Linked DNA regions of Homo sapiens. The protein of the gene in region 1 interacts with the protein of each later gene in a pairwise test. Each region holds a gene or a part of one and is shown on either strand. Other genes may lie near its edges. The genes, in order: SAXO2 and FHL2.

Region 1 (3,131 bases):
TTTGTGTGTGTTTCCACATAGTATTTCAAGGAGGCCTAACAGGAGAATGACTCAGGGATTGCTAGCTTTCCACCAACGTAGCTTGGAAGTCCCTTTAACTCTTTCACAGAGATAGAGGGTCCCTCTGTACCTATTTTTATGCTGTTCCCACCTTCCCATTTTTCTTGATCTGGCAATTTCCTACTTATCTTCCAAGATTCAGCTCACCTGTCCATCCTCTCCCTAAGGCAGACTTTCCTGAACTCCTAGGCTGAATGTCTTACATTGTTCTCTGTTTCAATCTCTATTTTCACACCTGTTATACTGAGTGTTAGATTATGGGGAAACGCCATTATTCATCTTCAATCCTTATCCCATGGCAAATTGCCTCTGGAAACTCTAGTAGATGTCTTATTAAGGGTGACCTTTGTCCAGGGAGGAGACCACCCCTATTAAATTACAGAGTGATTTGAATATCCAGCATTGGAATATGGGACGGGATGACAGAGTGCTGTAGTATTCCCTTCTTTTTAATTCTGATTACATTGTTTTGTATTTAAAAAGTAAGAACATCTACTTATGTATAGGTTAACCTAGACAGGACTTTATTAAAATGCTCTCTTAAAAAAAATTAGGTAAAGAAATGATTTCTTGAAAATCCATTCCTTTTATTGATTTTATTATGTTGCATGGAAATATAGTTTCACACACCATACTTTTACTAATAAATGTAAAGAACAAATTACTTTTGAACAATTAAAATAACCAAATATTGATTTTCAATAAAGTATATTTTGAAATAATTCTGAAGCCATAAAAGACTAAAATTCACTTTATGCTAAAATAAATCATATTCTCCCATAATGCAATTATTTAATTTTTTTAAAAAAAGAAACCACCCAATAAGAGTTTAATTCATTCGGAAATTTTTAGCATTTATAAATGCAATAGAGTGTTTCTACTATACTTACTGGCATCATTCTTTACCTTATCACTTATCTTCACACCGGAAGAGGTGAACCAGGTGATTATGCCCCCTGCTGGGGCTGGTTCTTCCTCTAAACAGTGACTTGGCCTGGCAATTAGGTGCAAAATTACCTACATTTACCCTAAAGATTTCTTCAGAGCTGTCAGTCTTCCTAAAACTACCCTAGCAAATAATACTTTTTCCTTTCTGCAAATACTGTTATTCAAACCACTGTATTTACCCCATTCCAAGCTTTCCATTCTCTGTTAAGAATTTCTCAGGTGCTCATGAAGTTTTAAAGGACAAGACTCCTCTCAGAAGTATATACTACTCATAAGCTCAAAGCAAATTAGGTTATTTTACAATCCTTGCTACAGGCCAGAAAATGAGCATTGAGTAAGTAATTATCCTAATTTGAAAAGGAGAAAACAAGTACAAAAAGAGATTGAGCAATTTTAAAAAAAAATCCTCCACATTTGTACTTTAAGGATTAAAATGTACCATACAGTCTGATGCTCAAAACAAACTCTTTTTGAGAACAGACATCATTTTACAAATAAAGACACTGAGGCTCAGAGATATGAGTCACTGCCTAAGGTAGTACAAATAGAAATCTATATTATTAGAACTTAAACTCAGGTTGGGTATAGTGGCTCATGCCTGTAATCCCAGTGCTTTGGGAAGCCAAGGTGGGATTCAATAGCAGCCTGGCCAATAGATTGAACAGCCTGACTAATACAGCAAGAACCTGTCTCTACAAAGTATGTTTAAAAAAAATAGCCAGGTGTGGTGGCACACCCTTGTAGTCCCAGCTATTTGGGAGGCTGAGGCAGGAGGATCACTTGAGCTCAGGAGGCTGAGGCTGCAGTAAGCTGTGATTATGCCACTGGACTCCAGCACGGGTGACAGTGAGACCCTGTCTCTAAAAATAATAATAATTATTAGTCAGAACTTGAACTCAAGTCCTTCGATTCCCAGCACACAGAGCCTTTCCTTGCCACACCACAGTGCCTCTTGCTAACTTGAACATGGTGAGGAGCAGTGCAGCAGTCTGTATACCACCAACCAAAACTTGATTCAGTGGATGCTATGTAGATGCCGTGAAGTCTGAGTATAATGAATCCTGTTGCCTTGGAAGAGGAATCCATGTATCATTTTCAATGTTGTTCTAGATAATCCTGATGTGCTTGATAAATGACAAATGGTATGTGAATAACCATACAATTGCCATAATTATAAACAGAATTACAAATGATAATAGACTGGGGACAAGCTACTAAGCAGTATGTTGAATACTAAAATAGTTCTCATGGGAATGCATATTATTCAACCTTCTGAAATGCACATTAAAGAACAATCTTGATTAAAATATCAATAAAAAATGGTTTTAAGATTCTGATTTCTTATAATATATTTTCCAATTTTCTTGTTTAAAAATATAAAAAATGATTTATTATATCATAAATTTTTTAACTATAAAAATTGAGTTTTCTCTTGGAAAAACAACAACTTGCTAGTACCTTCCTTTTAAGCACATTTTGGTTATTAGAAGGCCTTCACTGCAGGAATAATCTTGCGGAAGAATTTATGACCTTGGGAATTTGTATTGTCGAAAATATAACCTGGAGGAGAGGGATAGCTGGCTGGGCAAATTTCCTGTCTTTTCGGTGTGTACTCTACAGAGTACATGGTTACATCATCAAATGGAACAGAACTCTTAAAAGCAATATTTAAAGGTTTGCAACTCTCTGTTGGGATCAATTCATGTGGCACATAGTGAGATCTGAAAGTGCTCAAACCATCAAATTTTCCAGATGGGTTGGGAATCTGCTGCTGCTTCTTAATAAGTCCTTGACGACAACTTTCCCATGCTGGAAAATCTTCTTTCATGATGCTTTTTCCTTGGAAAGGAAAATTGTTACTTCTTTTTTGAGAAACTGGCCTGATGGGAACAACATGGTTGGCCTGATATGGAACATAGTCAAGATGGCTTGTGCTGTTTAACAGCATGCTACCTGTAGGAGGCACATACTCTGGTACTTTCTTGACCTCAGGTGGTGGGATTTCCCATGGTTGAAAACTTTCACGGAATTCAGTGCTTCCTTCAAACAGAGCATTCTGGGTCACTCTGGTGTGTACAGGTCTGCAGAGTTTTGCAGTTTCACCAATGAGACCCTGAAAGTCA
Region 2 (3,826 bases), on another chromosome or scaffold:
AGATGTTCTAGGAAGCAAACTTCCAACAGGGATAGCACAAGAGGTCACCCCTCACAAAGGCCATAGTCATGACTGTCTTCAAAGTGTCTCAGCGTTCACATTTTTAAAATTCCTTGAACTAAAACAAAATGCGCAAAGAGATCACTAAATCAAATAACTAGTTTGGTTCCAGGTTCCGGGAAAACACACATACATGCACACATGTGCACACGCACGCGCACACACACACACACACACACACACATACTTCAGCAAAAGAGAACTGTTTGTTCTAGTTTTGGTTCCGAGTTAGCTGGTGTTTTAGGACTTTCTAATCAAGGCCAAGATCCATGTCTTCACATCCTACATTCAGCATAACTCCAGCTTCGACTTCGGTTTCAGTAACAGAGACATCGTGGGCAGGCTCTTCTTCAGGGCCATCGCGTGAACAGCCCTCCTGTGCCCTGTTCAGGATACCTACCAACTGGAAGCCTGCCCAGGAAACCGTGCAGAGCCTAATACTCTGTTTCTGCCTCATGTATAAATGGATGATGATTTGGGGTCAGAGCTGGGAACACAAAGACAGCAATAGAAACATATCCTTTCTAAGATAAAGCTGGGCATAAAGAGATTGTTATTTTAATTTTGTGTTGGCACTTTAAAAATGCCGTATGTCATTTTTAAAAGGCAAATATGGAGGGTTCTCTTATTCCTCAGGCAAGATGAAGCCAAGTGTGGAGTCGAGTTTTCTGCGGGGCTCCTTTCTCTCCCTCATCTTTTACTCAAAAGCACACGTCTGTCTTCTCAGGGCCTCTCTCATGTGTGCTCAGTTTTTGTCTCACTTCTCCCACCCTCACGCCCCTCCACTCCCACATCCTTACCCGTCCCCCAGTCTGAGCACTTCACTCTCCTGTTGAAAAGCAGCTGTCCACTGCCTTCAGGATCAATGGAATCTCTACACAGACATAAAAGGCAAAAAGGCAGCCATATCTTCCAGTCCAGCCAGGCCGGGGGGCCCTCCCACCTCGCCCCTGGCCTGTGGTCCCTCCAATCTGACATGCCCCCCGTCCCCAGATCTTCTGTGTCTGTGCTCTTTCTCTGCCTGAAATTCCCTTCCTCCCCCAGCTCACGGCCACCCACAGAGGTAGCACCCACACACACAGTCTCTCCTGACCGTCTCCCACCAAACAGTCCTTGGGCCTCCTGTGAACATCCCGACACCCAGAGCCTCTCTGCCATGCCGGTGACCACAGTGATCTGAGTTGGGCAGGGCTCCCTCAGCCAAGGATGTCCTGCAGTCTGTTTCTCTGTCACCGGATGTGGTGTGAGACGAATTGATAGGTGTTCATGTTTTCTGTTTCTCTTTCTTGCAGGCAATACATAAGGGAAATCCCTTTGTTTTTTAGAAGCATCTCTCACACACAGACATGTGCATACATGCACATCTGTCTAACCTGTTGCTCTAAAATGCAGCAAGAGAAAAGCAGCCTAGTCTTAATTGATTTCAGCAGTTAGGTGGTCCTGGGGCATGAATGTGGGTGCGCCAGGGTGCCTCGGCCCAACTTCTTTCCTTGTTTGCCCTGCAGATTCGCAAGGGGCCCCTATGCTGTGGGTCCAAGCCCTCCTGTCCTGCCTCTGACTGTCTTGTGTGGTCTGGCCCCACAGGACTTGTCTTACAAGGACCGGCACTGGCATGAAGCCTGTTTCCACTGCTCGCAGTGCAGAAACTCACTGGTGGACAAGCCCTTTGCTGCCAAGGAGGACCAGCTGCTCTGTACAGACTGCTATTCCAACGAGTACTCATCCAAGTGCCAGGAATGCAAGAAGACCATCATGCCAGGTCAGGAGGCACTCCTTTCTCATGCGTGAGCCAGTCTAGCTTCAAGCCTTGTGCACGTTCCTCTGACCCCCTGTTCACATTGACTTGGTTCCAGACACTCGTGTTGACTTTCCAGTTTGACCTTGAACTGCAGAGGAGTATTTAGAGTACTTACGAAGCAGGGACATACAGGTTCTATCATGGGCAGTAACGGGATCTTTTTGCTGTGCACGTGGGGCAGTGTTATGCAGTCAAATTGTTAGAGTAAGAAAATGGTGGGTATCCCCCTTAAAAATACATCTCCTGCATCAGCCCCCACTCTCCCACCACCATAGATAGTTTCTCTTTTCTTCCCTTCTACCTGCTGAATTTGTACTCATTCAGTTATTTCACCAAGTGTGCATGGTGCCCTTGCGTGCCAGGCACTGGGCTCGAGCTGAGCATTCGTAGGGTGTGAGCCGAGGTGCACCTGGTCCTCTGCCCTTGTAGAGTTGGTGTTCTAGACGGACAGTCAAAAAGGGCACAGCCGCAACTGGGCCAGGTGCCGAGGATGGCAATAAAGGTGCCTTGTGTGTTGATGGGACTGTGTCCCTCATGGTTTTTTTGTGTGTGTATGTGGGGGGAGTTATTTGTTTTGTTTTGTTTTTTATGTAGGAGAGCAGAATCTTTTATTTTAAAAAGCAAAGTGGACAAAAATATGTGGAATTTCAAAATACAGAAAGAAGCTGGGTGCGGTGGCTTATACCTGTAATTCCAGTACTTTGGGAGGCTGAGGTGGGTGGATCACTTGAGGTCAGGAGTTTGAAATCGGCCTGGCCAATGTGGTTCAGTGGTGCAATCTTGACTCACTGCAACCTCTGCCTCCCAGGTTCAAGAGATTCTTCTGCCTTAGCCTCCTAAGTAGCTGAGACTACAGGCGTGCACCACCACACCTGGCTAATTTTTGTATTTTTAGTAGAGATGGGGTTTCATCATGTTGGTTTGCTTTGTTTTTGATAATAAAGAAATACTGAAGAGACTGACATATGGGAAATAGTTTAGAAATATATGTAGGATGCCAGGTGTGGTGGCTCACCCCTGTAATCCCAGCACTTTGCAAGGCTAAGGAGGGCGGATCACGAGGTCAGGAGTTTGAGACCAGCCAGGCTAACATGGTAAAACGCTGTCTCTACTAAAAATACAAAAAATTAGCCGGGCATAGTGGCGGGCGTCTGTAGTCCCAGCTACTCGGGAGGCTGAGGCAGGAGAATGGCCTGAACCCAGGAGATGGAGCTTGCAGTGAGCTGAGATCACGCCACTGCACTCCAGCCTGGGTGACAGAGTGAGACTCCGTCTCAAAAAAAAAAGAAAGTTATGTAGGATAAGGAATAATCATTTTTTAAAAAGGCAAGGAGGTAATCTGACCTTTGGTAAGATGGTTTCTTACTGCCACTACATTTCTCTGGTTAATATAACTTTAAAACAACTGTGACACACTATGACAGGGAAGAAAAATGCCCAGGCTGACACAGTCCCAGCCCTGTTGGCAGCTGTAAGGGAAAACAGCTGGAAGGGCTGCATGGTGACTTTAGATGGGGCAGCTCCAGGCAAGAAGGCCTCTTCTAAGATCATGTGGATCCTGCAGAGGCTGGAAACTCGGGCCCCAGTGCTGTGCGACAGTGCAAATGAGAATTGAAGCCCGTAGAAAGCCAGGCTGACCTGTGTCCTGCCCCACAGGGAGTCACTGCAGAGACACAACACTCAGTAACAATAAGAACCACGACATTAATTGAAAAACAAATTAAACCCTTACTAGTTTCCTGAACAAGGGCCCAAGGAAGCTTCCACTGGGGACTCTAGGGGCTGTTTAAAGACTTTAACTGTTAGCACCAACCATGACATAAAAAGTATGCATATTTCCCGGATTTTGAATTTTTCACCTGTCTTGACTTTCTGTGTTAGTCACGTTCTCCAGAGAAACAGAATCAATCAAGGAAATGTATACACATAGATACATACATAAGGAGAGAGAGAGAGAGAGAGAGAGAG

The links.
Region 2: the proteins of SAXO2 (region 1) and FHL2 interact in binary tests that used the Homo sapiens proteins (3 or more experiments, as listed by UniProt).

What each region holds. Positions count from the first base shown.
Region 1 is NC_000015.10:82,282,423-82,285,553, reverse strand, and holds the end of SAXO2 (stabilizer of axonemal microtubules 2), read right to left. Parts: coding exon 2,492-3,131; 3' UTR 627-2,491; downstream 1-626.
Region 2 is NC_000002.12:105,371,552-105,375,377, reverse strand, and holds part of FHL2 (four and a half LIM domains protein 2), read left to right. Parts: intron 1-1,644; coding exon 1,645-1,819; intron 1,820-3,826. UniProt on the Homo sapiens protein: May function as a molecular transmitter linking various signaling pathways to transcriptional regulation. Negatively regulates the transcriptional repressor E4F1 and may function in cell growth.